2 separate regions of the Homo sapiens genome follow, and region 2 is linked to region 1. Evidence: fine-mapped expression QTL. A gene starts in region 1. The other region holds a variant in brackets. All regions are shown on one strand. Distances are between the middles of the regions. Region 1 holds the start of KNL1 (kinetochore scaffold 1). Region 2 overlaps KNL1 (kinetochore scaffold 1).

Region 1 (16,712 bases):
TGATCCTCAAGACTCACATATTCTAGAACATAGGATTATTGAAAACCAAAGACAGAAGCAGAACAGCCATGGAATGTGACCAGTTTTTAGTTGGGTAAGTTTACTGTGGTCCTGACGAGGTATCATCACCAAAGGCACTCATTCTGCTTAGAACACTGTCTTGTACATGGTGAACAATATTGTCTATGATTATGATTTTTGTTTTCTTCCCCTCCAAGTCCTCTGTCATCCTCTTCTTTTCATTTGAAGCTTGTCCACGTTTTCAAAACTGCAACATTTTTGTCAACCATTAACTAGGTGAAAACAGTTAAGAATTGCCTACTAAAGTTGAACACACACATAACCAATGACTCTACTTCTAGCTATCTACCTACAGAAACACTTGTACATGTGCCCCAAGAGACATATAAAAACAGTCACAGCAGTGTTCTTGCAGCAAAAGACTGGAGATAACAAAAATATCCATCAATAAGAGAATGGATACCTAATTGTATGTTCAGATAATTGCAAACTAATCAGCAGTGAAAATGAACGAATTATACGGATAAAACAGTGTCCAGTGACAGAAGTTACAGATGAATACGTTATATAAAATGAATACATTATATAAAATTAAAAAACAGACAAAACATATTTAAGACTACAAATATGTATAAATATGTATATTTGGTAAGAAAAACAAGAGAATGATTAACATGAAATTCAGAAAAGTTGTTATCTTTGCCAGACACGGTGGCTCACGCCTGTAATCCCAGCACTTTGGGAGGCCAAGGCAGGTGGATCACGAGGTCAGGAGATCGAGACCATCTTGGCTAACACGGTGAAACCCCGTCTCTACTACAAATACAAAAAATTAGCCAGGCGTGGTGACATGCACCGCAATCCCAGCTTCTCGGGAGGCTGAGGCAGGAGAATCGCATGAACCCGGGAGGCGGAGTTTGCAGTGAGCCGAGATCGCGCCACTGCACTCCAGCCGGGGGCGACAGAGTGTGACTCCGTCTCAAACAAACAAACAAACAAACAAACAAAAAGTAGTTACCTTTTTTTTTTTTGGAAATGGAGTCTCACTCTGTCTCCCTGGCTGGAGTGCAGTGGCGGGATCTTGGCTCACTGCAACCTCCGCCTCCCAGGTTCAAGCGATTCTCCTGCCTCAGCCTCCCGAGTAGCTGGGATTATAGGCGCCCGCCACCACGCCTGGCTAATTTTTTGTATTTTTTTTTTTTTTAGTAGAGACAGGGTTTCACCATATTGGTGAGGCTGGTCTCAAACTCCTGACCTCGTGGTCTGCCTGCCTCATCCTCACAAAGTGCTGAGATTACAGGCGTGAGCCACTGTGCCCGGCCAAAGTAGTTATCTTTTTGGTGGGAGGATGCCTCCAGGAAGGGACACACAGGAAGCATCAAAGGTGCTAGTAATCTGCCACCTGCCAAGAGGGTAGGAAAAAAAAATTAAAATAATTAAAAATCATTTTTTAAAAAAGAAACAAAGGGGCTGGTAATGTTCTATTTCTCAAGCTGGGTGGTGTATATACAGCATTGCTGTTTTTTTCTTTCTTTCTTTCTTTCTTTTTTTTTTCGGAGACAAGGTCCTGCTCTGTTGCCCAGGCTGGATTGCAGTGGCACGATCATGGCTCACTGTACTCTCGACCTCCCAGGTTCAAGTGATCCTCCCACTTCAGCCTCCTGAGTAGCTGGGACCGCAGCACACACCAGCACACCCAGCTAATTTTTGCATTTTTGGTAGAGACAGGGTTTTGCCATGTTTCCCAGGCCTGTCTGGAACTCTTGGGCTCAAGTGATTCACCCATTTGAGCCTCTTGAGTAGCTGAGAATATGGGTGCATACCACCACACCTGGCTAATTTTTAATATTTTGTAGAGACAGAGTCTCACTGTGTTACCTAGGCTGGTCTCGAACTACTGGCCTCAAGCGATCGTCCCCAACCTTGGCCTCCCAAAGTGCTGGGATTACATGTGTGAGCCACTGCACCTGGCCTTATTATTGTTATTTTTAAACTGTACATGCATATTACATTACGTATGTATGTATTGTATAATTGTGTAATACTATCAAGATAAAACTTTTAAACAACAAATATTAAAATATCTCACCTCTTTTTTTTAACATTTGGTTATCTCTGAAATAGTGACTCTCCTCTTTCAGTCCCACTGCACAACTCTTTAAGATCCATTTGACCTTCACACAGCTGGTGGGTGCTACTCCAAAGTGCCTAGACCATGGGTTGTTTTCACCAGTGGTGGAAAGATAACACCATACACCTAGTATTTTGGAGACTATAATGGTAAGCAATAATTAATAATTTGCAAAAATGGGCCAGGCGCTTGGTGGCTCACACCTATAATCCCAGCACTTTGGGAGGCTGAGGTGGGCGGATCATGAGGTCAGGAGATCGAGACCATCCTGGCTAACACGGTAAAAGCCTGTCTCTACTAAAAATACAAAAAAAAAATTAGCCAGGCATGGTGGCGGGCGCCTGTAGTCCACCTACTAGGGAGGCTGAGGCAGGAGAATGGCATGAACCCAGGAGGTGGAGCTTGCAGTGAGCTGAGATAGCGCCAGTGCACTCCAGCCTGGGCGACAGAGCAAGACTCCGTTTCAAAAATAATAATAATAATAATTTGCAAAAATGACTAACTGCTTTAATTTGCCTTAGCAGATTCAAATACAACTTCTCCATCATAAAAGAACTGAGGGATCTAAAAGCAGTTCATGGCTTTGGAATTCTAGACCCCGCATGCTCTCCGACACAAAGAGCCCAAGAACTTGCATCTTCTATCTCTTCATTACCAAGACATCTAGACAAAAGGTTCTTGAAAATGTTTTAGTAATTCAAGTAAATAATAAGTGATGCAATTATTCTGGTTCTTTTTTCTTTCCAACATTCCAAATGTTGAAGTTAAAGTAGGTTAGGAATTTTAAAAGGAAAGCTTTATATCTGATCTAAATGCCAAATCTTCCAGAATCACAACTGAAGCAAAATTGCAAGGATTAGTCATTTTATAAGCCAAGATATGCCAGAAACTGCCAGTAAACTACAGAAGCTAGATGAGAGATATGAAATAGATTCTCCCTCACACCCCTCCTAAGGAACCAACCCTGTTGACACCTTGATCTCAGACTTTAGCCTCCAGAACTGGGAGACAATAAATTTTTGTTGTTTAAGCAAAATTTTTTGGGTTTTTCTGAGACAGCCTGTCACCCAGGCTGGAGTACGGTAGCATGATCAAGGCTCACTGCAACCTGGAACTCCTGGGTTCAAATGATCCTCCTGCCTCAGCCTCCCGAGTAGCTGGGCCCACAAGTGTGCACACCCATGCCTGGCTAATTTTTTTTTTTTTTTTTTTTGAGGTAGAGTCTCACTCTGTTTCCCAGGCTGGAGTACAGTGGCACAATCTCGGCTCACTGCAACCTCCATCTCCTGGGTTTAAGTGATACTCCTGCCTCAGCCTCCTGGGTAGCTGGAGTTACAGGTGCATGCCACCATGCCTGGCTAATTTTTGTATTTTTAGTAGAGATGGGTTTTTTTGCCACATTGGCCAGGCTGGTCTCGAACTCCTGACCTCAGGTGATCTGCCTGCCTTGGCCTCCCAAAGTGCTGGGATTACAGGCGTGAACCACCGTGCCCAGCCGCCTGGCTAATTTTTTTAATTTTAATTTCATTTTTTGTAGAGACAGGGTCTCACTGTATTACCCAGGCTGGTCTCGACCTCTTGGCCTCAAGCAGAACTTCTGCCTTGGCCTGTCAACATGCTGGGATTACAGGCATAAGCCATGGCACCTGGCCTCAAAAAAGAATTTTAAAGCCTTGCATCTTGGGCTGAAATAAAGGCCACCTCTGATACCTCCTAGGTTATATAAAAAATGACTACTGACAGTCATTGAAAGGAGAGTTGATTGGAAGTGATCCTTTCAGTGAGTTCCCAGAAACTGACATTAAGGAACTATTTCAGTTTTTTAAAGCTAAAAAATCAAAACAAAAACAAAACATTTTTTCAGATGTCAAGTTTCTGTGTTATTCAATAATTTAAAAATCAGAATTCTAGACCAGGCACGGTGGCTCACACCTGTAATTCCAGCACTTTGGGAGGCTGAGCGGGGCAGATCACCTGAGGTCAGGAGTTTGAGACTAGCCTAGCCAACATGATGAAACTCCATCTCTACTAAAAATATAAAAATTAGCTGGGTGTGGTGTGGCGCGCACCTGTAATCCCAGCTACTCAGGAAGCTGAGATGAGAGAATCGCTTGAACCTGGGTGGCGGAGGTTGCAGTGAGCCAAGGTCGCGCTACTGCACTCCAGCCTGAGTGACAGAGTGAGACTCTGTCTCACAAAAAAAAAAAAAGGAAAAAAGAAAACGATCAGATAAACAACTGGCTAACTATCCATCACTACCTCAGCTTGGGATATACCATAAAGTGTTATTCCCTATTTCCCTGAGTCTTTGGCATTTACTCATTCATCTTGGCTTTCCTAGACAATGTTACTAAAACTGGATTTCCGTTTTGCTCTACTGATCTTCAATATGAAAATGTTATTTAGTTTTCAGTTCACTAGACATTCCTAGAAGTTGTTGTAGTATTTTCACACGATAGAGTACATCTCAGGGAATGATTTTAGAAAAGAAAAACGTTTTGGGTCGGTGTTGTAGACTCAGAGCAGAATGCATGGATTCACTATGGAACCTCTCCAGACCCTGTCATCACTGTGTTCCCAGAGATGGTTCTCCAGTGGGAGAACCTAATGGTAAGGAACAAATTGACTTCACTTCTGTCATTGCCTGCCTCTCAAAACCAGTCTTTGCAAGTCTTGGAGCCTGAGGTCTGGGTTTTTCTTGCAAGAGTTAAGAAATAAACTTTAGATGTGTCAAAAAAAAAAAAAAAAGCCAAACCGAACAAACAAAAACAAAGCATTGATTTCAATTCTTCCTTCAGAGCTATGTCATATAAGGGCTGCTGCTGACACACACAGCCTGTCTGGGCTGTGGACCAGTTTATTATTTCATAATAAACATTGGCCATTGATTCCCAGAGAACCTCATTTTCAAAAGAGGGAATTGGTCCTCTTAAAGCTGGCCCCAGATAATGAAGACGCATTGCCTAACACTCCAATAGTAAAAGAGCTGGAATATCTTGGTAAGATATTTATGCAACAGTCCTTTGCTGTGGTCTTCCAGAGGTTGAGGTGTCCTGCAATAGTTGAGGATAGTACTTGCAAGGAAGAACGTTGGTGTTGGTAGAGAACGGTTTCTTTGAGCTGTGGTTTGTTGAAGAATTTGGGGAGTTAATGGAGATCTCTGTAGACGAGAGCATCCATCTCGGTAGACGAGAGCATCCATCCCTGTAGATAAGAGCATCTTGTCCGAGTCTTGCAGTTGCAGCTGCTCCAGTAGATGGCGCCTCTAACTCTTTTCCTGTCAGCTTCTTACAAGCTTCTCTTTCCGTTTCTAATTGAAGTATTTCTTTTTCTTTCCCTTGACTTTTTTTTTTTTTTTTTTTTTTTTGAGACGGAGTCTCGCTGTGTCGCCCAGGCTGGAGTGCAGTGGACCGATCACGCCTCACCGCAGCCTCAACCTCCGGGGCTCAAGCGATCCTCCCACCTCAGCCTCGCAGGACTACGGGCGCTAGCGACCACACCAGCCTCTTTCTTTCTTTCTTTCTTTTTTCTTTCTTGTCTTTCTTTCTTTCTTATTTTCTTTTTCTTTCTCTTTCTTTCTGTCTTTCTTTTTCTCTCTCTTTCCTTCTTTCTTGAGACAGATTCTCCCTATGTTGCTTGGGCTGGTCTCGAACTCCGGGACTCAAGCAATCCTCCCACCTCAGCCTTCCAGAGTGCTGGAATTACAGGTGTGAGCCACTGTACTCAGCCTAAAAAAGTGAGTTTTCAACTCACAATTTTTTTCTTTTTTTTCCTCTATATTCTGCCAGTACATTTCATTTTCATAACTTATACAGCTGAAGATTTTCCTTTGAAAAAATAATCTTCCCAGCCCATGCAGCACGCCGTCCCATCCAGCATGGCCAACATGGTGATGTTGCGGGACAATCAAAAGATGGGAGAGACCGAACAGAGTGAGTTCAGGAAAGGTCTTTATTAAAAGGTGGTCACTTGGCCCAGTAGGACTAGCCTCCAGGAAAGTCTGAGCCCCAGACAAAGAAAGTAGCCACGTTTTACGCAGTCAGTGGCCGGGAGCAACGTGATGCAGGAAGGGTACTTACAGAAGCGAGAACAAAGACAGTTGATCAGTCTTTTACATTTATCTATACTACACGTTCCACATCCCTGGGAAACCATGTTTCTGTACCAACCTTATAACTTTGCAGCTGCCCTAGGGAGGGGAAGCAGGAACTCGCTGAGCCTCAAGGAATGTGAAACTAGCAAGTACAGATAAGGCTCGCCGAGCACAGAAGGAAAAGCAGGCAGTTAGTATTCTTCTCTAACTTGGCCGGGGGTCTTCTCTAACTTGGCTGGGGGCGGGGCGGGGGGGAGGTGGCTACACTACACTTAGCTTTTGAAGGAAAAAGTAAAAATTTTCGGTTGTCTTTGATTATACTTGTAAAATTCATGAATTCCTTCTTCAGTGAAACCCAGTCTCTCTTAAAAATACAAAAATTAACAGGGCGTGGTGGCACACACCTGTAATCCCAGCTACTTGGAAGGCTGAGGCAGGAGAACTGCTTGAACCTGGGAGGTGAAGGTTGCGGTGAGCGGAGATAGTGCCACTGCACTCCAGCCTGGGCGACAGAGCGAGACCCTGTCTCAAAAAAAAAAAAAAAAAAGTCTACCCATGCTCTGCACAGACGTTGATAGACCTATAGTTATCACTGCAAGAAGCTGGCAAACCTCAGGAAAATGATGCAGCCCTGGCGTCTCTAGAGAAGTTGCAGCACTAATGGGCAATGTAAATAAAAATGTATTTACAAATGCATTCCCAGCACTTCCCTGGCAAGTGCTGGGAAAAGCCTAGCAGGCCACAGAAGCGTCTAGGAGGGTTACAAAGGTCCAGAAGCAAGAGAGAGCGCACGGGCTAGTTGAAATGGAAGAGGGAGCTGCAGGTTGCAGGGCTTGTTGATGGGGGTGACCTCTAAGCTCAGATCCGAAGGAGAAGCAGGAGCCGCCCAGGCAGTGACATGATGGGAAAGAAGAGGGTGGGGTCAGGGGTATGTTGCAGGGAGAGGAGCAGGGACGGTATCTACAAACGTGTTGTGGAAAGAGAAAAAATCCTAGTTCAAGGAAAGGTAGATCTGTGTCTCCAGGGAGATTTAGAAAGGTCTCTCTCAGGGGCTCTTAACCTTTTTTTTGTGACACAGACCCTTTTGGCAGTCTGGGGAAGTCTAAGGATCTCATCTCAGAATTTTTTTTAAATTTTGATTAAATTTTTAAATTTTTTTGTAGAGACAGGGGCCTCACTATGTTGCCCAGACTGTCTTTGAACTCCCGGACTCAAGGGCTGCTCCTGAGATTTCAGGCATGAGCCACCATGCCTGGCCAGAATGTTGTTTTTAAATGTATAAAATTAAATATGTTAGAATACAAAGGCAACCAATTTTGTTGGAATAGTTGCCAAAATATTCTCAAAGTTTGTGATGTAATAATATAATAATGCATGCACTTTTTTTTTTTTTTTTGAAATGGAGTCTTGCTCTGTCGCCCAGGCTGGAATGCAGTGGCATGATTTTGGCTCACTGCAACCTTCACCTCCCGGGTTCAAGCAGTTCTCCTGCCTCGGCCTCCCCGGTAGCTGGGACTACAGGCACGTGCCACCACGCCCGGGTAATTTTTGTATTTTTAGTACAGATGGGGTTTCACCATGTTGGCCAGGCTGGTCTTGAACTCCTGACCTCAAATGATCCACCCACCTCAGCCTTCCAAAGAGCTGGGATTACAGGTGTGAGCCACCGCGCCCAGCTTAATGCATGCACTTCTTTATGAATGCATAACATTACAAGACATAATAGCAGGTCTAAAAATTACCACAATTTTGAAGTAGCAATGAGCGTAAAGCAATAACAGTAATCTGATATAAAAATATCTGTGATTTCTATTGGTGACAAAATAATGGATAAGGTTAATATTACTGTAGTTAGTTGCTTACCGTTATTGAAGGATGTGCTTTCAATTAGGGAGTGTGGAAATAAGGATGAAATCTTTTTCTGAACCAAATAACCCACTGAATTCTATCCATGGACCCCTTGGAAATGCGTGGAACCCAGCAGAAACCCTTCCTAGCAGCAGGGTAGAGAATGCATTGGAGAGCAAGGCTAAGGAAGGGTGACTCAATGTCCTGAGCCCAAGGAGGTATCAACATTCCCAACGGATTTGGATCTGTAACAGAAAGAAGCCACTGGAGCCAGCAGAGAATGGGGCCACTGCTTTCCATACTCAGTGCCCAAACCTTGCTGAAGCACCTGCCAGAGGCCGTGTTGTGGAGCATGGTGCAATGCAGACAGCCTTGTGGAGGAGACAATCTGTAAACCATGACTGCAAAAGATTGATAAATACTGATTATTAATCTACAGCACAGTGTAGGATTGATAAATACTAATTATTAATCTACAGCACAGATTAGAAGGGTGATTAAGCCAGCGTCTAGTAGATTTGGGTTACACTCTCCTTTCTTCAATTTAGAAGCTGTATAACCTCGGGCAAGCTAATCTTTCAGTCTCCTCATCTGTAAAATGGAGTAATAAAAATATTTGTCATGATCAAGGGTTATAGTGATGTAATTCATGTAAAACATGTGGTGCCTGTAGATAATAAATACCGGATAAAGTGTCTCATGGTAGCTTTTGAAGTGAAACCTGGTATCTCATAATCAGGACAGGTGTTAAAAACCCCAGAGTAACAGTCTACAATAATTGAAACTCCTCAGTTAGGAGCTGTGTTAAAGTTGGAACAGAGCAGCATTGGAACATATGGGATGGTAATAATTGTGGAATTCTATTCACTGTTGTTAACTCCATATAAAAAGAAATTAAATCCAGCATGATTTCTGATTCCTGGAAAGTCTCTTTCCCTCCCTTTTCTTTATCTGTGATGTCAGAACGTTCCAAATACTGTATTTCAACATTTCAGGCCTGAAACTGATGGTGCCAGATTAATTGAGTAATAAATAATAAGTATTCAAGTTTTTCCGCTCTGCAAATTTACTTTGGTTATTAAAAAATTTATTCTGCTCTGCAAATTTACTTTGGTTATTAAAAAATTTATTCTGCTCTGCAAATTTACTTTGGTTACAAGCAAAAGTAAGCCACCACATCGACGAGGATGGGATTCGAACCCACGCGTGCAGAGCACAATGGATTAGCAGTCCATCGCCTTAACCACTCGGCCACCTCGTCCCGGTAAGTTACTGTTTCCTGATTGCTATAGGGAGTAATATCAAGGGGCTGTGACGCAATGTTATGGAAGCCGCCATTTTGTACGGAAGCCAAAGTCCAATCACTTCCATAGCAAGCAATCGAAAGAAGATGGCCGCTCCCACGATTGTGGGGGAGGTCTCCACTGGGGAGGGGCAGAGGAAATTCGGTCGAAAAAGAGATAAAGCTGAAGGAAATAAAATTGGCACGGAGTCTGGGAAAGTAGTTTCCCTAAAGGAGTCTTAGAAATAGGGTTGGTCTGGAACCTAAGGGGCGGAGCCGACGCGTAGAGCCGCTTTGCGCGTGCGCATCACCTAGGCGGTTAGATTTGAATACTTCACTGAGGCGAGCCGGGCGTTGTGAGCGGACTGCTAGAGGCGGCTGTCTGTTTCCGCTCTAAGGAAACTCAGAGCGTGTGGACCCCAAACAAGTCTGCGCAAAATTTGTCGAGGAGGTTTGCCGCGGCAGGTAAAGAGAATGACTCTTTCGTTCTGGGCTTCAGGGAAGGCTTCGGGTTTTGTCTGGGCGCCCTGAAGTTCCTGCGGTGGGAGGTAGGGTACGCTCCCTCAGCCTGGCGGCCTCCGTTAGCGCCGGGCCGAGTAGACGCCCCTGCCCCGGGCCGGGCACACTGTGCCCTTTTTCCCCTCCTCGGCCTGTACGTTGTGCCGCCTCCCGCTTCCCTAACACTTCTCCGCCTGCACCTCGGCCCCTCCGGCCACCCGGCTCGGGTTGCTTGTCCGTCGCTCTCTTGGCGTCCTCTTCCGCCCCGCCCTGCCGTCCTCTGTCAGGGCTCGCGGACTCTTCTTGCACCCCTGCCGCTCTTCCCTAGGGACCTCTCGGCTGTTTGTATTTCTCACTTAAGCTTTTTTTGGCTCTAAATGAAGTGACAGCAATGAGTGATTTTAAAATTCTCAGCTCTTCGTGGTTTAAGGTGTCTGCTCGGAGTGCTGGCCGCACGTAACAGATTTTTCGTTTTCTGCAAGTATAATAACCTTAACAAATGAAGTCAATATTAGTACTGCGCAAATTAGTTTTTAAAAATCCTCTTCTGTTCATTATTCCTCAGGATTTAAGCCCTTATTCTTCACGTTTATTTAAATACTCAAGTTTGAGGGAGGAAAAAGTATTGCCGATTGGAATTTTACAGATAGGTTTAATAGGCATTAACAGATAAAGGATGTGGATGAAGACCAAAGCAGAAGCTTATTCCAGTCTAGATATTAAAATTGATGTTTTCACTTCCGTCGAATCCTGTAGATATTTATTGGGTTCCTTATCCTGTGATAGGGCCGGGGACAGATGATTCCCAAACCTAGAGGGGTTTACAAAGGGAAATAACTAATATACACAAATAACTAGAATACAAGACAGAATGTAAAAGATTATAGGACATTCTAAAGTGGTGTGGGAGCACGGAAAAGGGAGAGCTTATTTGATGCTTTTGGTGATGGATTTGTGGAGAAGACCGCATTTGAGGTGGACGTTGGTTGGAGAGATGATTTACAGATGGGAGTTAATATGTGGTAAAATTTTGGTAATTAAAGGTTAGGGTCAAAGCAGTATAATTCTTGACTTTGCGAATGGCTGGAAATCTTTACAAGATGATAAATACATGTAAATTGAATTAAAATGTTTGGAATGGTAGTATTAATGATGTGTTCGATGTTAAATAATAGACTGTAAAAGATACTGACTCTAGATATTGCCAGTAAAGCAGTGCTGTCCAACAGGGCTTCCTGTGAAAATGGTAATGTTTTATATGTGCACTCCAACATACTACCCATTAGCGACATGGGACTATGGAGCACTTGAAATGTCATTATTGTGACCAAAGAACTGATTATTAAATTTTATTTTATTTTCATTAATTTAAATGTAAATAACTACTATATTGGACAGCACAGGTCTAGAGTCTCTGTCATTTCACTCTTATCCTCCTACAATCCCGGAAAATACTAACTCTAGATATCGGTCGTATAAATGTAGGAGTGGGCAAAGAGCCAGATAGTAAATATTTCAGGCTTTGCAGGCTACATGGTCTTTGTCACATATTCTTTGTTTAGTTGTTATTGCTTGCCTTGTTTTCTACAATCCATTAAAAGGGTAAAAAAACACTCTTAGCTCAAAGGCTAATTGGGCTCAGTCGCTGTTTGAGGACCTACGGATTATTTAGAGTAGTGGTTCCCAAATTTTCTTGATGCATGGCACCCTGAGATCAAAGAAATACCTAACAGTCTATTTATTGAGTACAGTGGTTGGGTCCAAACATTAAGTATATATGTCCCAAACTTAGTAGCCATTTAAAAAAATACAGAAATTGAAGGAAAATATGATATTTTAAATTTTATTTATTTATTTATTCTTTTTTGTGAGACGGAGTCTCGCTCTGTCACCCAGGCTGGAGTGCAGTGGTGCTATCTTGGCTCACTGCAGCCTCCGCCTCCTGGGTTCAAATGATTCTCCTGCCTCAGCTTCCGCAGTAACTGGGATTATAGGCACCCGCCACCATGCGCAGCCAATTTTTATATTTTTAAGTAGACACGGGGTTTCACCACGTTGGCCAGGCTGGTCTCGAACTCTTGACCTCGGGATCCGCCTGCCTTGGCCTCCCAAAGTCCTGGGATTACAGGTGTGAGCCACTGTGCCTGGCCAAAATTTTATTATTAAATAATCACACTTACTGATTGGATATCTGTGCCTGTTGGACACTGCACAACTTCTGAAACTTTGGAATCAGTTTATACCCTGTCACCCTCATTTCCTGTAGTACTTTAATAAAAAATACTTGCTTTTGGGCCGGGCACGGTGGCTCACACCTGTAATCCCAGCACTTTGGGAGGCCGAGGCAGGCAGATCACCTGAGATCAGGAGTTTGAGACCAGCCTGACCAACATGCAGAAACTGCGTCTCTACTAAAAATACAAAATTAGCCAAGCGTGGTGGCGCATGCCTGTAATCCCAGCTACTTGGGAGGCTGAGGCAGGAGAATCACTTGAACCTGGGAGGCAGAGGTTGCAGTGAGCCAAGATTGCGCCATTGTACTCCAGCCTGGGCAACAAGAGTGAAACTCCATCTCAAAAAAAAAAAAAAAAAAAAAGGTACTTGCTTTTTATCACAGCAACTGCAAACAGTTTATCTTTACAGTGATGTTATTAAAACTAATGTAATGCAAATGTACTGTTTTGATCTAGTAGTTCACACAGTACCTGACAGGTGTTCAGAACTGCTGTGCATCTCTCAAAATTTTTAAATATCCCAGGACACCATTGTGAGTATGCTGCAGCACCCTTGGGTGCCAGGTACACAGTTTGGAATCAGTAACTTTTTTGTTTTTTTTTCTTTTCGAGACAGAGTCTCACTCACTGTGTTGCCCAGGCCAGAATGCAGTGGTGCCATCTCAGTTCACTGCAATCTCTACCTCCTGGGTTCAGGGGATTCTCCTGCTTCAGCCTCCCAAGTACCTGGGATTACAGGAACACGCTTCCATGCCTAGCTAATTTTTTTGCCCTGCTAATTTTTTTGTAATTTTAGTAGAGACAGAGGTTTCACCATGTTGTCCAGGCTGGTCTTGAACTCCTGGCCTCAAGTGATCCACCCACCTCGGCCTCCCAAAGTGCTGAGATTACAGGCTTGAGCCATCGCACCAGGCCCCGGGAACCAGTAACTTAATGTGTCAATAATCAAGAGTTTGGCCGTACCAGTGTTTTATAAATGAGGCTTAACTTGTGAGTCTGGAGTCTCCTATTTGTGTTGAAAGTGGAACTTAACAGTTACAGAATATTTTAAAAGGGGGACTTCAGTAAGTTTGAATTTTATCAGTTAATTGCTAACTGATTGGTCTACAGATTGGACAGGAATTATGCTTAATGACTGTTTTAAACAACAAAGATATTTAGGTGATCTTGAGTTGATAGTAGTTATTATCTGTGAATTTTGAACATGTGCACTGAATTTGAAAATATTTCCCCTGGGCGCGGTGGCTCACGCCTGTCATCCCAGCACTTTGGGAGGCCGAGGCGGGCAGATCACTAGGTGAAGAGTTCGAGACCAGCCTGACCAACATGGTGAAAACCCGTCTCTACTAAAAGTACAAAAATTAGCTGGGCGTGGTGGCAGGCGCCTGGAATCCCAGCTACTCTGGCGGGTGAGGCAGGAAGGAGAATCACTTGAACCCAGGATGGGGATGTTGTGGTGAGCTGAGATGGCACCATTGCTCTCTAGCCTGGGCAACAAGAGGGAAACTCCGTCTCAAAAAAAAAAAAAGAAAAAGAAAAAAAAAGAAAATATTTCCAAAGGAGAAAAAATATGCGAGTTGGTGGTCAAATAATTGTTTCTTAATTACTCATTCAGCAAATGTTTATTGAGGCTGGGCCTGCTGGCTTATACCGGTAATCCCAACACTTTGGGAGCAGAGCTGGAAGGATTGCTTGAGGCCAGGAGCTCATGACAAGCCTGGGCAGCCTAGTAGACTCCAGCTCTACAAAAAATAAAAATAAAAAAATTAGCCAGGAATGGTGGCAGGTGCCTGTAACCCCAGCTCCTCAAGAGGCTTGAGGATTACTTGAGCCTAAGAGTTTGAGACTGCAGTAAGCCTAGATCACACCACTGCACTCCAGCCTGGACAACAGAGCAAGACCCTGTCTCCCTGCCCCCTCCGGCCCCCCAAAAAAAACAAAAAAATGAGTGGGTTGGGGATATTGGGGATATATATTGGAAATCGAATTAGATGTTGGATTGAATAGAAGTAAATGGCTGTCATACTTTTTGGATCTTGGAAAGTTTTCAAAGTTTAACTATTAAGTTGATCTTTCCTATTAGTTTTTTGAATATATACTGTTAACTTACCTTCTATTTCTCGTTTGCTGTATTAAAAAGAAATTTTTTTAAATTTGTTTTCGAGACAGGGTCTAGCTCTGTTGCCCAGGCTGGAGTCTAGTGGCGTGATCACGGCTCACTGCACCACCTACCTTCCAGGCTCAAGCTATCCTCCTGCCTCACCCTCCCAAGTAGCTGGGACTACAGGCATGTGCTACCATACCTGGTTAATTATTTTTATTTTTAGTAGAGACAAGATCTCACTATGTTGCCCAGGCTGCTGTCAAACTCCTGGAGTCAAGCAGTCCTCCCACCTTGACTTCCCAGAGTGCTGGGATTACAGGCATGAGCCACCATGCCTGGCCCATTTGAAAAAAAAAATTTTTTTTAAACAACTATAGCTTTAAAAAAAGAGTATTTTTCAAAAAATTAGCTGAGCATGGTGGCGGGTGCCTATAGTCCCAGCTACTAGGGAGGCTACTTGGGAGGCATGAACCCGGGAGGCAGAGGTTGCAGTGAGCCAAAATTGCGTCACTGCACTCCAGCCTGGGTCACAGAGCAAGATTCTGCCTCAAAAAAAAAAAAAAAAAAGTTTTGTTTTGTTTTGTTTTTTTAAACAGGAAAGGATGTTAAAATTCATTAAGCATCCTCCCCCACCCCCCGAGACAGGGTCTTTCTCTGTTGCCCAGGCTGGAGTGCAGTGGTTTGATCTCTGCTCACTGCAGCCTCTGCCTCCCAGGGTCAAGCGATCCTCCCACCTCAGCCTCCAGAGTAGCTGGGACTACATGTGCGAGCCACCATACCCGGCTAAGTTTTGTATTTTTCGTAGAGGTGGGGTTTTGCCGTGTTGTCCAGGCCCCTTTGGACTCCTGAGCTCAAGTGATCAGCCTGCCTCGGCTGCCCAAAGTGCTAGGATTACAGGTGTGAGCCACTGCCCCCAGCCCTTAACTTTTTTCTTCATCTGTTGAGATGATTATATGATTTTTACCTTTTAATCTGTTAGTAAGGTAAATTGCAAGGTTGATTTTCTGATATTAAACCGATTATGTATTCCTTTTTTTTTTTTTTTTTTTTTAAAGAGACGGGGTCTCCCTATGTTGCCCAGGCTGGAGTACAGTAGCTATTCACGGTTGCAATCATAGTACACTGCAGCCTGGAACTCCAGGGTTCCAGAGATCCTCCTGCCTCAGCCTCCCAAGTAGCTGGGACTGCAGGCACATTGCCCCATATCTGCCCACCCAATTTTGCATTTCTGCAATAAAACCAACATGACCGTGATATATTATCCTTCTTACAAATTGCTGGATTCTTTTTGCTGATATTTATTTGGGATTCCTTTTTTTTTTTTTTTTTTGCAATGGAATCTCACTTTGTTGCCCAGGTTGGAGTGCAGTGGCCCCGTGTTGGCTCACTGTAACCTCTGTCCCCTGGGTTCAAGCAATTCTCCTGCCTCAGCCTCCTTAGTAGCTGGGATTACAGGCACCCACCACCATGTCGACTAGTTTTTATATTTTTAGTAGAGACGGGGTTTCACCATGTTGGCCAGGCTGGTCTCAAACTCCTGACCTGAGGTGATCCATCCACCTTGGCCTCCCAAAGTGTTGGGATTACAGGCATGGGCCACCACGCCCGGCTATTTGGGATTTTTATACTTTTGAGAATGGCATGTAATCTTTCCTTGGTGTGTGTGTATGTGTGTCTCAGAGGTGGTTGCAGGAAAGGAAGTTAAATTTTGATCTCCCATGGTGGGAAGACAGACAGTTTAATGGCTAAAACTAGAAAAATAGCTGGGCACAGTGGCTCATGCTTATAATCCCAGCACTTTGGAAGGCAGAGGCAGGTGGATCGAAGCACATCAAATATCTTTCAGGTACCTGTTTACTTATTGCTAAAAGCAAGAACATTGATCCTGTTTATGTGTATTGTATTAATTTAGTGTTGTGGTGGAAATGCTAATATGGTTGAGTCAAAATCTCTAGCTATTCTTTTTTGAAATCTGCAGTGGCATTTTTTTCTTATCCAAGGATGAGATTCTAAAGTTAATACATAAAGTGAAAATCAAATATAGGGAGGCAGGAACTGAGACCAGTTCAGGAAACTTCACGTTATGCCTCTAAGTTCATATTCTTTCCAGGGCAAATACTCACTGAGTGAAATTTAAAGCATTATCAGCTATGCTAATAAGGTGCTATTTTCATGTGTTAAATTTTTTTGCTGAGTACTTATCGTTGACTTTCCCTCAGATAAATATACATATGATGCAAATTCACTATATTTAGATATCTAATTCAGGTGTCCCCAACCCCCTGGGCCGTGGAACGGTATAGGTCCACTGCCTGGATGGCACAGTGGGAGATCAGTAGCAGCCCAGCATTAGCGGCCTGAGCTCCGCCTTCTGTCGGATCAGCAGTGGCATTTGATTCTCACGGGAGCACAAACCCTGTTGTGAACTGCGCACACGAGGGATCTAGGTTGCGGGCTCCTTACGAGAGTCTAATGCCTGATGATCAGAGGTGGAACAGTTT
Region 2 (8,000 bases), 58 kb after region 1:
GGGTAACAGAATGAGACTCCGCCTCAAAAAAAAAAAAAAAAAAAAAAGATTTGCCTGTTTGTGATCATGATAGAGCGATTATGTGAGCAGTTTGAACCATTTATAATATTTTCTTTAGAGGTTTAACTTGACAGTCTATAATCTTTTGTATTTAGAATGAGAGGGAGAAACTTCAAATAAAGATAGATGAGATGGATAAAATACTTAAGAAGATCGATAACTGCCTCACTGAGATGGAAACAGGTAAAGTATTTTAAATACTTTTCCAAAAGAAAATTTAATTTTATCTAAATGCTCTCCTACAGTAGAGAATGTTGGTACCACGATATTGAAGACTTGTATTAGCAACTTGAGATATTAAATTAGAGTAAATTGGCTCACGCCTGTAATCCCAGCACTTTGGGAGGCCAAGCCGGGCGGATCACCTGAGGTCAGGAGTTTGAGACCAGCCTGGCCAACATGGTGAAACCCCATCTCTACTAAAAATTTTAAAATTAGCTGGGCGTGGTGACGGGCGCCTGTACTCCAGCTACTCGGGAGGCTGAGGCAGGAGAATAGTTTGAACCCAGGATGTGCAGGTTGCAGTGAGCCAAGATTGCGCCACTGCACTCCAGCCTGGGTGGCAGAGCGAGACTCCATCTCAAAAAAAATAATAATAAAATAAATAAATAAATAAATTAGAGCAAATTAAAGTTCCTTTACTATAGTCATCCATAATACAATCAAGAGCTGCTCAAGATAACCCAGACTGTAATTTTGTGTTTTTTAATAGATGAATTTATCTCAGTTTGAAAACCGTCTATCCTTTCAGTTTGGTCTTTCATAATCCCAACTTTTTAGAGTTACTCTCCTGAAACTCCTTTCTCAAAGATCACATAATTCTGCATAGTCATCAAATTTTGTTCTTCTCAGTCCTTAGCCATTTTGACCTCTTTCAGCATTTGACACTGATGACTGTTCTTTTCTTCCTGAAATGTTCATCTCCCTTAATCTCTGTGATAATGCACTATCTTGACCCAGTTGTTTTCTCCTGGCTGCTCAATCCAGCTTCTCTGTTGGCCTCTCTTTCTCTAACTGATCCCTTGTGGGGATTTAGATTTTATCATCTGTTCTTTTCTATATTCTCTCCCCTAGTGCTTTCGTGTGCCTTAATAATTATGTGACTGATTCCCAAATTTAAATTCCTCAAGCATTTTTTGAGCATATACTGCATGCCAGATACTGTGCTTAGTATCAGAAAATAAATAAAAATATTTAAGACACAGATTTTGCCCTAAAGGTAGCTTATAATCATTTCAGGTGAGGGCATCTTTAGCCTCTCTTTCTTGAATTCTAGACTCAATTTCTAGCTTCCTTCTGAACCTGTATGCAAAAAATATCCTTAAACACCTTAAACTGTGAATACAGCCTGGGCAACAGAGTGAGGCACTATCTCTACAAAAAACAAGAGATTAGCTCAGCGTGATGGCACATACCTGTAGTCCTAGCTACTTGGGAGGCTGAGGCAGGAAGATCTCTTGAGCCCAGGAGGTCAAGACTACAGTGAGGCAAGATCACACCACTGCACTCCAGCCTGTGCAACAGAGCAAACTAAATAAATAAATTTAAATATATTCTCCGAGCTCAAAAATAAAATTCAAAAACTTGTTCTCTCTTATGATGTTTCTCATCTTTATGTATAGCAGTCACAATTCTTATACATTGTAAAAGCTCAATACTTTCATTGTCTTTGAGGCTCTCTTAACAAGTCCTGTCATCGGCAGCTTCAGCATCTCATGTGTTTATTTTCCTTTCCTATTAAGGCTCACCTTAATTCTGAACTGTGCTATTTCAGTCTTCTAACTAATCTTTATACATTCTTACCATTATTCCACCTTCTTCCATTCCAACCTGCACATTGCTGCCAGATTAATAATTATGAAAGACAGTTTTCATTAATGTTACTCCTCTGAAAAACTTCTGTCTTTCCATTTATTATAAAGTCCAAACTTAACTTTCTTTTTTTTTTTTTTTTTTGAGATGGTATTTCACTGTCGTTACCCAGGCTGGAGTCAATGGCACAATCTCTGCTCACTGCAACCTCCGCCTCCCAGATTCAAGCGATTTTCCTGCCTGAGCTTCCCGAGTAGCTGGGATTACAGGCATGCACCACCAGGCCCTGCTAATTTTTTTTTTTTTGTATTTTTAGTAGAGACGGGGTTTCTCCATGTTGGTCAGGCTGATCTCGAACTCCCGACCTCAGGTGATCCGCCCGCCTCGGCCTCCCAAAGTGCTGGGATTACGGGTGTGAGCCACTGCGCCTGGCCCAAACTTAACTTTCTCTGTGGTTGGCTTAAAGAAAAAAAAAAAGTCCAAACTTCTGAGCTTGACATTTCATATCTTCTACAGTTGTTTTCAGATTTACATGATTTGTTACTACTCCCATACACCTCTTAAATTCTAACCAAACATTGCTATTTTTATGCAGTTCTGCCACTTTTTTGAGACAGAATCTCTCTCTGTCACCCAGGCTGGAGTGCAGTGGCATGATCTCTGCTCACTGCAACCTCTGCCTCCTGGATTCAAGCAATTCTTGTGCCTCAGCCTCCCAAGTAGCTGGGATTACAGGCATGCACCACCACCCCCAGCTAATTTTTGTATTTTTAGTAGAGATGGTGTTTCACCATCTTGGCCAGGCTGGTCTCAACTCCTGGCCTCAAGTGATCTGCCCATCTCAGCCTCCCAAAGTGCTAGGATTACAGGCATCAGCCACTACGCCTGCCTTTTTCTTTTATTTAAAAAAAAAAAAAGAGAGGCAGAGTCTCACTCTGTTGCCCAGGCTGGGGTGCAGTGGCATGATCATAGCTCACTGCAGCTTCAAACTCCTGGGCTCAAGGAATCCTCCTTCCTCAGCCTCCTGAGTAGTTGGGACTATAGGCACATGCCACTAGCCTGATCATTTCTACTTTGGTCTTTGCTACTACATACTACGTTCTCTTTCTGTTTTTCACCAAAGAAAGTAGTCTCTTTTCCTTGAGCTCTCATGGCTCTTTTGTTAGTACTTCTTATATTACCCATCACATCTACTTGTATTATAGTTATTTTGTATAGTTTATCTTCCTGATTAAATTATAAGCTCTGTGGAGGCAGGAATCAGCTCTTCTTTTTCTCCATCTCCTTCAGAGTCCCTAGGACTATATTTCATACAGAGTAAGTGCCTAGTACATGTTTTTTGCACTGAATTGACCATGAGTACATGAATTCCATAGTCTAAAGTTCACCCCTTTGTTGACTACCTTACTTTCTCTTTCACAG[A/G]AAAAAAAAAAAAAATAGAAACCATCAGACTAGAACTTCTGAACTTCCTACTACCAAAGAAACAATCTGTCGTTTAATAAATTGTTTTTGATTGAATTATTCTTTTTTTCCTTACTTTGTTTTCTTTTTTTACTATTTTTCACTGAATTATTCTAACAAATACTGTCTACTTTAGAAACTAAGAATTTGGAGGATGAAGAGAAAAACAATCCTGTGGAAGAATGGGATTCTGAAATGAGAGCTGCAGAAAAAGGTAATTGAATTAGTTAAGGAGATAAATGGGTGTGGGGGAAGCCCTTCTGTTCTGAGTTTGTTTATATACTTTGGTGAGATTAAGTCAGAATTTTCAATAAAACAGATTTTTGTGGCAACATTCTAATATGTTTGTTCTGTTTTTTTTTTTTTTCTGTTTCCAAAGAATTGGAACAGCTGAAAACTGAAGAAGAGGAGCTTCAAAGGTCAGCCTTCAATCCAAGTGTTAGAAAATATAATGCTAAATCACAGAAGGCTAGATGACTTCCTGCCTCCAGAGACTGACAGGATTTGGGGACATGAGTCTTGATTGAGGCTGACTCAGGGCTTCTCCACTTTGAATGGAAACCTAGAGTCCATCTTAGTCAACAGTAGTTTTGAAGCACTTATTGTTTACAGGGCATTTATCCACAACAGTGTTTCTCAAGCTTGAATACTACCAGTATCCTTTTTGTTTAATAAATGTAAATATAAACAAGTATAAAATGAAGTATATATTTCTTAGGCCTATGAATCTTATTCAACTGTAAGTGTAAAAGAAAGTAAATAGAAATAATGACAAAGCCACTAAAATTCTAGTTGACAACATTAATTTGACAGGTGATAGTGTTTGGCTGAAATTAAATTGATGCTAGCAAAATGATTAACAAAGATATGTTCTGTTTAGCTCTAACAACTAAACGAAACCAAATACAGGCAAAAAAAAAAAAACTGTGACATGTCTCAGTTTTAAAGTATATCTTATGATCTACATTATGCTTATATTTTTATATTTTTGCTTTTTATCAAAAATAAAAATGTAGTATTTAAAAGTTATCTTAACATGTGAATCCCAAGGATATCTTCATGGATCCTAATTTGAAAAACAATGATTTATGCCTTTCCCAGGTAGACCCACTTCTAGATTAATGCTTATATAAAAAAAAAAAAAAAAACTAAACTAAGAATGCAGAAATGGATGCCATACACCTAACATTATTACCTCAATGGGGAGTCATGTAGCATGTGACTTCTTATCATAAACCTTTTATATTGATAGAGTGAATTCTCTAACAAAAACCTTATCTCTCTGAATACCTGCTTTTATTTGCAGAAATCTCTTAGAACTGGAGGTACAAAAAGAGCAGACCCTTGCTCAAATAGACTTTATGCAAAAACAAAGAAATAGAACTGAAGAGCTACTGGATCAGTTGAGGTAAGGAAATGCAGGCATCATTTGTTTGTGTTTTATTCTGTACCTTGTGGTTGTTTAAACCGATTGGAGCAATTGATGTATTTTTAATGTGTTGCTGTTTTTAACCTATACAGTGCTGTTTCAAAAAGAGTCAGTGTACTCAACAGTAAGCTGGAAATAGAGTAGAAGAACTATGGAATTATAATTTTTCCATATTTTATACTTTTCATTGCGTAGACTTGGTGTTTCTCTGATATACAACTCAAGATTGGGTTCTTAGTTATTTCAAAAGCTTAAGTTTGTACATCCACAATATATGAATTGAAATATTTTCTCCCAGTCCAGTGGAAAAACATTAGCAGCTGCTGTTGGTACTGTTTGGGTGGTATCAGAAGTTCTCTTTTATGTTAATTTTAAAAACGCTTTTTAAAAATCTTGTTTATCTCTCTACAGCTTGTCTGAGTGGGATGTCGTTGAGTGGAGTGATGATCAAGCTGTATTCACCTTTGTTTATGACACGATACAACTCACCATCACCTTTGAAGAGTCAGTTGGTAAGGAGCCAAAGTGAGATAATTCTTTTACAGAAAAATGAATGGCTACACTCACTAAAGATTCAAATCTTTATTTTACTATACTGATAACTATTGGCATGATGAGAGCACTGCTGAAAGTCTTAGAACAGTCACTTTATTGATAGCAGAATTTTATTTTATTTTGTAAAGAATAAAATAAAAATGGAATTAGTGAACGTTGCCCTTTGTTGAATTACATTAAATAAAAATTTTGCTCTGCAAATAATGGATAAACATGCTACTCATGTCTATTTACTATGAGTTTCTTTCTTTTCATCTCCATCTTTCGTGATAGAGAATAGAGAATTTACCCTAATGGCTGGAGATTCTTTTTTTTTTTTTTTTTCTTTTTTTACTTAAGAGTGAGGCCCTGCAGCTCACGCCTGTACTCCCAACACTTTGGGAGGCTGAGGTGGGCGGATCATCTGAGGTCAGGAGTTCGAAACCGGCCTGGCCCACATGGTGAGACCCCATCTCTACTAAAACTACAAAAAATGAGCTGGGCATGCACCTGTAATCCTAGTTACTCGGGAGGCTGAGACAGGAGAATCATTCGAACCCAGGAGGTGGAGGTTGCAGTGAGCCAAGATCGTGCCACTGCACTCCAGCCTGGGCAACAGAGCAAAACTGTCTCAAAAAAAAAAAAAAAAAAGAATGAGGCCCTAACAAGTTAATTGGAAGTTCTGTGTGTATAGGTGGGTTTATCATCTAAAAGGATAAAATCACTATATAGGGTGGAAATCACTATATGGTAACTGGACAGAGGCCCAGCTGTTTTGTTGGAGTTTACTAGTTGTCAGTGTCTTTTAGGTATTTTCTCTTTAACCAGTCAGCGTCAACATGGCCAACCATGGGCAAACATGGCCGTATTGGAACGTAGGATCTTCACAATCTCTGGGCCTCTAAACCTGATTCTCCTTGAAAGTTTCTTTTCTCAATGAATAGCGTTACCTTCTGTCCAGGTCCAAAATTAAAACTTAGGAATCACTCTATACCTCTTTCTCCCTCGCTGTACATATTCAAATCATCAGTAAGACATGCTTTTTGTTTTTATTTATTTATTTTTATTTATTTATTTTTTTGAGACAGTCTCACTCTTCCACCCAGGCTGAAGTGCAGTAGTGCAATCTCTGCTCACTGCAACCTCTGCCTCCTGGGTTCAAGTGATTCTCCTGCCTCAGCCTTCCAAGTAGCTGGGATTACAGGCATGCGCCACCACACCCGGCTAATTTTTTTATATTTTGTGGGGATGGGGTTTCACCATATGTGTTGTCCAGGCTGGTCTCAACTCCTGGCCTCAAGCGATTTGCCCACCTTGGCCTCCCAAAGTGCTGGATTACAGGCATGAACCACAGCGCCCAACCTACTGGTTTTAATTTCTTAATATTCATCCACTGTTTTTCATCTGTTCTGTCAATAATCATCTCTAACCTAGATGACTACAGTAACATTCCAACTGGACTTTATGGATCTTCTCCTCCTCCTCCCTGAAGCTATAGTGATTACTGAAAATCTGACTATGCACCTATTACTCTTAGGCTAATGATCAAAGTATTTGATCTAGCCTATGAAGCGTTGCCTGAATTGAATTTTTCTCCTTTTCCTATCTCATACTACCTTCCTACCTCTGCACGTTGGCCACAGTGGACTTCTTTTATTTCCTTAAATGATCATGGTGTTTCCTGCTCAGCCATATTCATCCTATCTCAACACCTTCATGCTGATGTTTCTTATGCCCGAACGCTGTTTTCCCCCACTTCACTAATGAACTCCTACTAATAATTGTAAGAGCTCAGCTCTCAGTGATCAGTTTCTCACCCTTCTGTTGTATGTTCTTGCTTTCTGTGGTTTTCCTTAATAGTGCTTATCATAGTTTGTAGTTCTTGCTGTGTTTATTAGTGCAGTTGTGTGTCTCCCTGAGTTGTAAGCTTGAGGGCACAGGTTGAGTATGCTGTTTTTCTCATGGTATCCACAGTGCCTAACACATAGAAAATATGTAACAAAGCATTCAATAAAGAGAAAATAATCAATTCAGGAGACAGTTAACTCTAGAGTCTGGGGGAGCGAGCAGCTATCTCAGCTACCTAAAATGTATTATAGCAATGCTAAAAGCATAACTCATTTTTACTGTATTTATACAATGATAGGAGTTGTAGAGAGATGATAGCCATTTTCCTTATATGATTGCTGAAAATAAAATTATCTTTGCACAGAAGTTAGGGGTTAAAAGAGGAGGCCTTAACAAATATAGCTGTGTACTACCTTTTAAATGTCCTTCAAAGACATACCAATCAATGTAGTTGAACAGTCTCAGGGGAGCCTTTACTAGATACAGAGAATAATGATTCAAGGATAACCCTTCAACTTCCTGTGGAAAAAACTCTGCTACACAGAAGGAGTAGGATTCTAAAGTACTGAGTTTTATGTGACTTCAAATCAGGTAGTTTAAAAAAAAAAAAAAGGCCAGGCACGGTGGCTCATGCCTGTAATCCCAGCACTTTGGGAAGCTGAGGTAGGCGGATCACGAGGTCAGGAGATCGAGACCATCCTGGCTAACATGGTGAAACCCCGTGTCTACTAAAAGTACAAAAAATTAGCCAGGTGTGGTGGCGGGCGCCTGTAGTCCCAGCTACTCAGGAGGCTGAGGCAGGAGAATCGCTTGAACCTGGGAGGCTGAGCTTGCAGTGGGCCAAGACTGCGCCATT

What was found.
Region 2: its variant is fine-mapped to the expression of KNL1 in whole blood (TOPMed, PIP above 0.99).

The regions. Positions count from the first base shown.
Region 1 is chr15:40,584,553-40,601,264 of GRCh38, forward strand. KNL1 (kinetochore scaffold 1) reads left to right here and starts at 9,697. Exons shown (of 26, transcript NM_144508.5): 1 at 9,697-9,840. It overlaps TRS-GCT4-2 (tRNA-Ser (anticodon GCT) 4-2), which reads right to left and starts at 9,354; the gene lies at 9,273-9,354. RefSeq lists enhancers at 5,620-5,669, 9,417-9,636, 9,857-10,176 and a silencer at 9,247-9,296.
Region 2 is chr15:40,646,832-40,654,831 of GRCh38, forward strand. It overlaps KNL1 (kinetochore scaffold 1), which reads left to right. Exons shown (of 26, transcript NM_144508.5): 17 at 156-243; 18 at 3,470-3,547; 19 at 3,713-3,752; 20 at 4,640-4,741; 21 at 5,174-5,274. Among named protein-coding and RNA genes, the nearest start is that of RAD51-AS1, 44 kb to the right of the region's middle. The variant A/G (reference allele first, on the strand shown) is at 3,295.